Regions from separate parts of the Homo sapiens genome. Here region 1 is linked to region 2. Evidence: fine-mapped expression QTL. A gene starts in region 2. The other region holds a variant in brackets. All regions are shown on one strand. Distances are between the middles of the regions.

Region 1 (4,338 bases), 73 kb before region 2:
GCACACGCCCTGTCATCCCAGCTGCTCGGGAGACTGAAGTGGGAGGATCACTTGAGCTCAGGAGTTTGAAGCTGCAGTGAACCATGATTGTGCCACTGCACCCTAGACTGGGCCACTGGGTCACAGGGCAAGACCTTTTCTCAAAACAAACAAAACAAACAGAAAACAAAGAACAATAACAACAACAACAACAAAAACAACACAAAAAACAAAGAAACTTCAGGCCCTGGCTCTCAAGGCCCTCCTGTTCCCCTGCACATCCCTTTCTCCCCTAGTCCCATCTCTATAGGCCCCTACCCCTGAGCCATCTTCCTTCAACCCCCATTCAATTTTGGTGCCATCATCTTGGGAAGCATCATTCCAAACTCCTTCTCATCTCTACAAAGCCTCTCCTAACTACTCCAGGGACAGAACACAATCAGGCCCTCATTATATTCCATGCACACCTTTCTAGAGCCTGTGTTCCAGGCCCTGAATCTACAAAGATGAATAAAATGTGGTCCCTGCCCTTGAGGAGGTCAATCTGGCATCAACAAACAGGTAGGTAAATAACTAGCACACAGAGAAGAAGTGCCATCACAGGAGCATGTAGAAGGGGCTAGGAGACTGCAAAAAGACCCCAGGGTGAGGACGGGCTGTTTAGAGAAAGCTTTAAAGGGGAATTGACTTTTGAATTGGGGTTTGAAGGGTGACAGGAAGTAGCTAGGCTGAGAAAGGGGAAAGAACACACCAGGCAAAACACTCAGTATGTTCAAATGCTAGTTAATAGGAGAGGGAATGGCTTGTTTGGGGAATGTGAGCAGTCCAGTGGGACAGGTGGAGCTTCTCCACCTAAGGGCTGTTCTGCAGAGGCAGCATTTCATGAGAAGGCGCGTTCCTGGAGGGCAGGGGCTCTCTTGGCCTCATTCTCTGCAGTGTGTCCCAAGCCTGATACCTAGCTGGTGCTCAATAAATGTGTGTGTGTGTGTGTGTGTGTGTGTGTGTGTGTGTGTGTGTGTTGTTATTGTTGTTTTGAGACGGAGTCTTGCTCTGTCGCCCAGGCTGGAGTGCAGTGGCGCAATCTCGACTCACTGCAACCTCCGCCTCCCGGGTTCAAGCTATTCTCCTGCCTCAGCCTCCTGAGTAGCTGGGACTACAGGTGTGCGCCACCACGGCCAGCTAATTTTTTTTTTTTTTTTTTTTTTTTTTTTTTTTAGCAGAGACGGGGTTTCACCATGTTGGCCAGGATGGTCTCGATCTCCTGACCTCATGATCCACCCACCTCAGCCTCCCAAAGTGTAGGGATTACAGGCGTGAGCCACCGTGCCTGGCCAACAAATGTGTGTGTTGAGTGATTCATGAGCTTGGTGACCTCAGACACTCTGAATTTCATTAAGTGTTGTCAGCAGTGAAAAGGGAATATGCTCCTCTACCTTGATATCAGGTGGGTAAAGCATAGTAAGAACTTGATAAAGAGCATTCCCTCTCTGGCCTGGTACCAGCTCTAGATCTTCCTCAAAGCCCAGCACAGGGCTGAGCACAGATCTGCTTGATGATGGCATTTTATAACATTACAATTCTAATATTCAATTAACTTAACTGAATGTCTGTTATAACAACAGACGCTTGCTATGCACCAGACACTGTGTTCAGCACTTAACTTACATTATTTCATTTAATCCTGACAAGCCCATGAGATAAATCCTCTAATTATCAACTCCCTTTTGTGAATAAGGAAACTCAGGTTCTTCAGAAAGACAATAACTGGCCAAAGTCCAAGTCAAGCAGGGGATGGCACTGGAAAGTGAATCCGGGCCCTGCTCATCTCTCCCTCTGTCACTCAACTCCACCACCAAGTGCTGTCCAGTAGGCTGGGTATACACAGCCTTGCTCCTGAGGAGCTTGGAGCTCAGTGGACTCAGAGGCACAAGCTGTGTGATGCTTGGCAAGTCACTTTGCCTCTCTGGGACTTGGTTTCTGCTTCTTAAAATGGGGACTATGATGATAAATACTCTCACAGAATTAAACGAGGTGATGTAGGTGAAAGCCTCGTCCACCATACAGGCTCCTCTGTGAAATGGCATTACTGTGACTATCCTGGGAGGATGGAGGGGGTCACTCAGAAGCAGAACAGGAAGCTCAGGATGAAAGTCTACATGGTGCCAGGCACAGTAGCTCACGCCTATAATCCCAACATTTTGGGAGGCAGAGGCCAGAGGATTGCTTGAGGCCAGGAGTTTG[A/T]GACCAGCCTGGGCAAGAGAGTGAGACCCTGTCTCTACAAAATTGTTTTAAAAATTAGCCAGGCATAGTGCTGCATGTCTGTAGTCGTAGCTACTCAGGAGGCTGAGGTGGAAGATTGCTTGAGCCCAGGAGTTCAAGGCTGCAGTGAGCCATAATTGTGCCACTGCACTCCAGCCTGGGTGAGAGAGGGAGACCCTGACTCAAAAAAAAAAAAAAAACCCACCAAAAAAACACAAAAAACCCACAAAAAACCCACAGAGGAGGGTGGTGGTAATTATTAAGCAAACTCAGACTCCTTCCCCAAGTGACTACCACCACCCAGGAGGACAGAGGCCCCGGGCAGCACTCTGGTTGCAAGCCTTGAGTGGAATCTTTCGGGATGCCCACCTTTGCTCTTACTTCTGCTTATCTTTACAGACCAAGGAAAGGGAAGGTCAGGCCCTCAGATCACAGCCCTGCTCCAGATGACTCAGCGAGGAACTCATGGGGGGATTCCCAACCTGCCCTGGCAGGCCAGGAAGCTCCAGACCACAAGCTGAGTGGGACTGGCTCCTGCCTAACCTCCACGGTCGTGGGGTAGGTTGGAAGAGCACGTGAGGGAAGCCAGATTTTCACCCCAAAGCTGCATTGCTCCCTTACCATTATGCTAAATGTCTGAGGTAAAATCTCAGAGGGTAATTTACACTCGAATTGTGAGAGCCGCCATGTTCCACAGAGCCCTTACTTTGTGACAGACACTGTGCTGGGTGCTTTACCAACAACATCTCCCTTAATCCTAACAATACTCCTGCTCCCAATGCCACCGCCACACCCAGCTAATTTTTTTGTATTTTTAGTAGAGATACAGTTTCGCTATGTTGCCCAGGCTGGTCTTGAACTCCTGGACTGAAGTGATCTGTCCACCTTGGCCTCCCAGAGTACTGGGATTATAGGCATGAGCCACAGTGCCCAGCCTAGGTTCTCTTTCTTTGTGAAGCCAAGCGAAGATGAAAGGGAAAGCAGCAGCATTCTCCAAAAGTGGCTGGCCGCGGAAGATCGCTTCTGGACTCACAGTGTCCAAGGCCCAAAGCACTGAGTAGGGACAGGAGTTCTCCGAACTTATGCTCCTTCACTGGGTCACTCACGACCCAGCTACTCCTGCCTTGTCTTGGGGTACATATGAGGAGCTGTGTGTGGAGTCCTGGGACAGGAATTGTGTCATCCATCATGACAACTTAGCAACAAAAACAACCTGAAAAGCCTGGTAGGAGAAGTGCAGACACTTGGGGCTGGGCTGAAGTCCTAAGACTGGGACAGGAAGGGGAGGAGGAGAGGCCACACAGTGGTCACCAACTTTGGTAAGATGGGAAATTAGGAAGGAGGAATGCTGGGTGCCAGGCCCTGTTCCATCACTTGCTCACCCTTGGTTTCCTTATCAGGAAACAGGGTAAAATAATAGCCTACCAATTTCCCATTGCTCCTATAAGGGTTACTGAGAGGCAATGGAAATGAAAGCACTTTGCAGACTAAAGAGCTAGATAAATCAAAGCATCCCTTGATTTGATTACATTCCCAAAGTCCTGAGGGACACCGATCCTGCACACAAAGAGAAGTCCAGCCTGGTATGGTAGTTCATGCCTCTAATTCCAGCACTTTGGGAGGCAGAGGCAGGAAGATCACTTGAAGCCAGGAGTTTAAGACCAAGCTGGGCAAAAAAGTAAGACCCTGTCTCAATCAATCAATCAGAGATGTCCTCTCACAAGAGGAACAGAGCATGCTGGGAGCAGTGGTTTCTGTGGCATGTGCCATGGTGACTCCCCTGAACTTGCGTGGTACCACATAGAGAACTTCTCAAAGCACTGTTTTTGTTTTTGTTTTTTTTTTTTTGAGATAGGGTCTCCATTGCCCAGGCTGGAGTGCAGTAGTGCAATAATGGCTCACTGTAGCCTTGATTTCCCAGGCTCAAGTGATCCTCCTACCTCAGCCTCCCAAGTAGCTGGGACAACAGGTGCGCACCACTATGCCCAGCTAATTTTTAAATTATGGGATGTAGAGATGGGGTCTCCCTATGTTACTCAGGCTTCAAAACACTTTTCATATACTCCACGGTCAGTCTCAGGATGTCAGATGTAGCTGTCT
Region 2 (4,384 bases):
AGAGCTTGCAGAGAGCCGAGATCGCGCCACTGCACTCCAGCCTGGGTGACAGAGCGAAACTCCATCTCAAAAAAAAAAAAAAAAAAAAGTTAACAGTTAGGCCGGGCCCTGCCAGGCCCAGCCACAGTGGCAGCAGGGGCAGCAGCAGCAGCAGTGGCAACGGGGGCTCCTGCCTGTAATCCCAGCACTTTGGGAGGCCGAGGCAGGTGGAACTGAGGTCAGGTGTTCAAGACCAGCCTGGCCAACATGGTGAAACCCTGTCTCTACTAAAAATACAAAAAATTAGCTGGGTGTGGTGGCACATGACTGTGATCCTAGCTACTTGGGAGACTGAGGCAGGAGAATCACTTGAACCTGGAAGGCAGAGGTTCCAGTGAGCCGAGATTGCGCCACTGCACTCCAGCCTGGGCAACACGAGTGATACTCCATCTCAAAAAAAAAAAAAAAGGCTAACAGGTAAGGCCCTGGTCCCAAGCCCCCTCAGTCCATGGGAGAACCAGGGGCTCTCTGTACCCAGGGTCAGTCCTTTGAAGTCTAAATACCAACTCACTGCAGCAATGCATCCAACAGCTTGGTGACATTGGAGGAATAATGGAGGACGATCACTGGCCTGAGCAGAAGCTGGGATATGTCCAGCTGCAGGGAGACAAGGAGGTCAGCAGGCCTGGGTCCCCCTTTCCCCAGCTTGCTTACCCTCACGGCCTGGTCCGATTTACCTCTCGGACCACGTTGTGGTTCAGGATGAGAAGAAGCAGGGCAGAGGCACCCAGGAAGAGGGCCCGCCGCATCTGCAGAGGGATAGAAGGCGAGAGGCTAGCATATACCCTGCCTGCACACCTGTCTCACCACCTGCAGCCCTAGCTGCTCTTAGCTCCTGGCCCTGCAGTGAGCAAAACTCTGGACAGACTGCCATAAGCTCCTTGAGGTCAAAGGTGGAAACTGCTTTCTTCCTCCTGCCTCCCTTCCAGATGCGCTGTGCCTTCCCCGGTCCTATCAGGGCAGTCCCAGCAGTGGTCGTCAGCAGCAGCTCCCCCATCCCATACTCTCAGAGCCTGGTCAAGCTTCTCAACCTCTCTCTGGCCTCCTCTCACCTCCCTGCTTCGAAGCCATACTGACTCCATTCTTCAAACTGGGGTGCCCTGACCCACCAGGCCTAGGGCTTCTCTGCAAGCTCTTAAGGGCCCATCTAAGGAGGGCCTGGCTCTAGCAGATGCCTTGGAATCCTTTCCTCCAGCCCCCTCCCCCATAGACATCCCCTGCACCTGCTGGACCAGGGCCTTGGGATAGGCCTGCGGGCCACTGCCCTTATTCTCCTGGTGGAACTGGGCCGCCTGCTCCTTGCCCACGTATGCCACTGCAATCCAGCCTTCCACTGGTGCCTCCTGCTCGGCATCCACGATGTCCATCTGTGTGGCAAGGGGCCATGAGCAGAGGGAGGTAGGGTGTGGTGGGGGAGGGAGCCGGGGTCATCACAGTGGATGCCAAGGCCAGAGTTCCCAGAGCATCTGGCTCTCTGGTTTGGGAAGCCGGAATGCTGGGGGCCTGGGGAGCCTGGGGAGGGGCGCTGGACTCTCAAGGCTTGGTGGAGGATGAACGTCGGTTCAGGGTGCGGGGTCTCTAGGGAGGGTTGAGAGAGGGGTTTAGTGATGCGGCCAGATGGCTCAGCAGCGCTCACCAGCAGCAGACGACCGCCCAGCAGGGGCGCCGGGTCGGCTTCGGAGCCGATCCTGACGCCCTCCAGGACCAGAGCGTCCTGGCGCGGCAGTCTCACGTCCACCCGCACGGCGCGGGCTCCGCCCCGCCCCGCCCCGGCCGCCGGCTCGCTGCCGTCCGCCGCGGCCCCGGGCCCCGCCAGGCCCAGCCACAGCGGCAGCAGGGGCAGCAGCAGCAGCAGCGGAGACGGAGGCGGCGGCGGAGGCGGCGGCGGCGATCTCAGCGCGGGGCGAGCGGCGGGGCCCATGGCCGGACCCGGCGAGCTGGCCCAACAGTGGGGCCAGGGGTCCCGGGCGCGGGGGGGATCGGAGGGAGCGAGGCCGCTGCCGGACGGGGCGGGGCGCCGGGAGGGGCGGGGCCGCGGCCGGACGGGGCGGGGCACCAGGAGGAACGGAGTGGGCGCTTGGCGGCTCTCGCGCCCAGACTGGGCCGCGGGCGCCCCCTGGTGGCCGCGGAGAGCTCAGGTGCCCGCGGCTGAGGGAGCTGGAGAGGGGCAAAACCGGGGTCGCAGCGGGAAGGCGGAAAGTCAGAGAGAGGAGGTGCTTCGGCAGCGGACGCGTCAGCGGGGCAGACAGGAAAATAGTTGGAAAGGGCGACCTGGGGGAGCAGAGACACGATCAGAGCCTGAGAAGGGCAGGAGCAAGGGATGTCTAAGGGGCCTGGTGGCAGGCCCTTGTTCTGCGGCAGCCCCGTGGACCCACGGGGTGGCCAGGGCCAAGTCACATCCCTCTCTTCCCCGGTCCTCCCTGTCTCGACCCCACTAAACAGCAGGAGGCAGAGAACCAGAGACTGGCGTGGGAAGCCGACAGGGGAGATAGAGGGGCAGGGGAAAGGGGCTGGGGGGCAAGGCAAAACGAAGCAGGCAGGGACTCAGTGCCTCAGTGGGACCGAGAGGCTGGGTCACTTCCCTCATCTGTGAAATGGGCACCATAGGCCGGGCGCGGTGGCTCACGCCTGTAATCCCAGCACTTTGGGAGGCCGAGGCGGGCGGATCACCTGAGGTCGGGAGTTCGAGACCCGCCTGACCAACATGGAGAAACCCCGTCTCTACTAAAAATACAAAATTAGCCGGGCGTGGTGGCGCATGCCTGTAATTCCAGCTACTCAGGAGGCTGAGGCAGGAGAATCGCTTGAACCCGGGAGGCGGAGGTTGCGGCGAGCCGAGATCGCGCCATTGGAATCCAGCCTGGGCGACAAGAGTGAAACTCCGTCTCTAAATAAATAAATAAATAAATAAGCACCATGTACAATCAACACTGCCTCACCCCCAGCAAATAACTCAAATGTCTACTGGAATGTGGAAGTTCCACTACTGTTCTAAAACTTGTCCGTTTCTCCAAGGGTTGGGGCTGCTGGGAGCTGGCTCAGTCTGAAACCTGAGCCTTTAAAAATTGTATGGTGGGCAGGGCGCGGTGGGTCACGCCTGTAATCCCAGCACTTTGGGAGGCTGAGGCAGGCGGATCATGAGGTTAGCAGATCGAAACCATCGTGGCTAACAAGGTGAAACCCCGTCTCTACTAAAAATGCAAAAAAATAGCCGGGCATGTTGGGAGGCGCCTGTAGTCCCAGCTACTCGGGAGGCTGAGGCAGCAGAATGGCGTGAACCCGGGAGGCGGAGCTTGCAGTGACCTGAGATGGTGCCACTGCACTCCAACCTGGGCCAGATGAGCCACAACACTCTTTTTTCTCCAGAAAAATTGAAAGAATTTTACAGTGAACACCTGTAGGAACACTGATATGGGATGACCAAGTTGCTCCTGAAGAAGTGTGAGACGGGTATATAAGACAGCCCCCGATATCAGCCTAAAGACAGACAAATGGAACATGAAATAGGCCAGAAACTGACCCACACATCTAAAGATGGTGTACATCAGAGGAAACATTGTGTTTGTGGAGATACAAGGAGGCAGTAGCATGGACTGTTTGGTAAATTGTGCTAAGAAATTGAATTAACCATTAGGAGAAGAAATTAGACCCCTATTACATACACATCATATACAAAATATGAATTCCATATAGATTAAAGACCTAAATAAGAAAAGTAAAAGTTTAAGCATTAAAAAATTATTTATGCATTTATTTTTGAGACAGGGTCTCTCTCTGTTGCCCAGGCTGGAATGCAATGGTGCCTTCTCAGCTCATTGCAACCTCCAGGGTCAACTGATTCTCCCACCTCAGCCTCCAAAGTAGCTGAGACCACAGGGGTGTGTCACCATGCCCAGCTAATTTTTTTTTTTTTTTTTTTTTTTTTTGTAGAGACAGGGTTTCACCATGTTGCCCACGCTGGTCTTGAACTCCTGGGCTCAAGGGAACTGCCTGCCTCAGCCTCCCAAAGTGCTGGGCTTACAGGCAATAGCCACTGCACGTAGCTAGATTCTCTGTTCTGTTCCATTGGTCTATAGTAGTCTCCCCTTACCTGAGGTTTTAGTTACCTTCAGCCAACCGAGGTCCAAAAAAATATTAAATGGAAAATTCCAGAAATAAACAGTTCATAAGTTTTAAATTGCATGCTGTTCTGAGTAGCATGATGAAATCTCTTGCCCTTCCTCTCCATCCCTCCCTGGATATGAATCCTCCCCACGCTGTAAATGTTACCACCTGTTAGTCACTTAGTAGGCCTCAGAGTTATCAGATTGAAGAAACACAGTATGTTTTCAGCACTACCTGAGGT

Alleles and levels. Positions count from the first base shown, and alleles are read on the strand shown. Sizes are in standard deviations (SD) of each study's normalised expression.
For the expression in lung of the gene that starts at base 2,058 in region 2, allele A in region 1 goes with a lower level than allele T (small effect, 0.20 SD a copy in GTEx).

The links. PIP is the estimated chance that this variant, and not a neighbour inherited with it, causes the effect. A credible set is the group of variants that fine-mapping cannot tell apart.
Region 1: its variant is the best candidate, but not a certain one, in a credible set for the expression of RNF215 in lung (GTEx, PIP 0.55).

What each region holds. Positions count from the first base shown.
Region 1 is chr22:30,312,389-30,316,726 of GRCh38, forward strand. All of the region lies in intron 1 of TBC1D10A (TBC1 domain family member 10A), which reads right to left. Among named protein-coding and RNA genes, the nearest start is that of TBC1D10A, 12 kb to the right of the region's middle. RefSeq lists an enhancer at 2,450-2,509. The variant A/T (reference allele first, on the strand shown) is at 2,221.
Region 2 is chr22:30,385,354-30,389,737 of GRCh38, forward strand. It overlaps RNF215 (ring finger protein 215), which reads right to left and starts at 2,058. Exons shown (of 9, transcript NM_001017981.2): 1 at 1,676-2,058; 2 at 1,263-1,406; 3 at 717-788; 4 at 551-636. The coding sequence starts at 1,960. RefSeq lists a silencer at 1,798-2,157.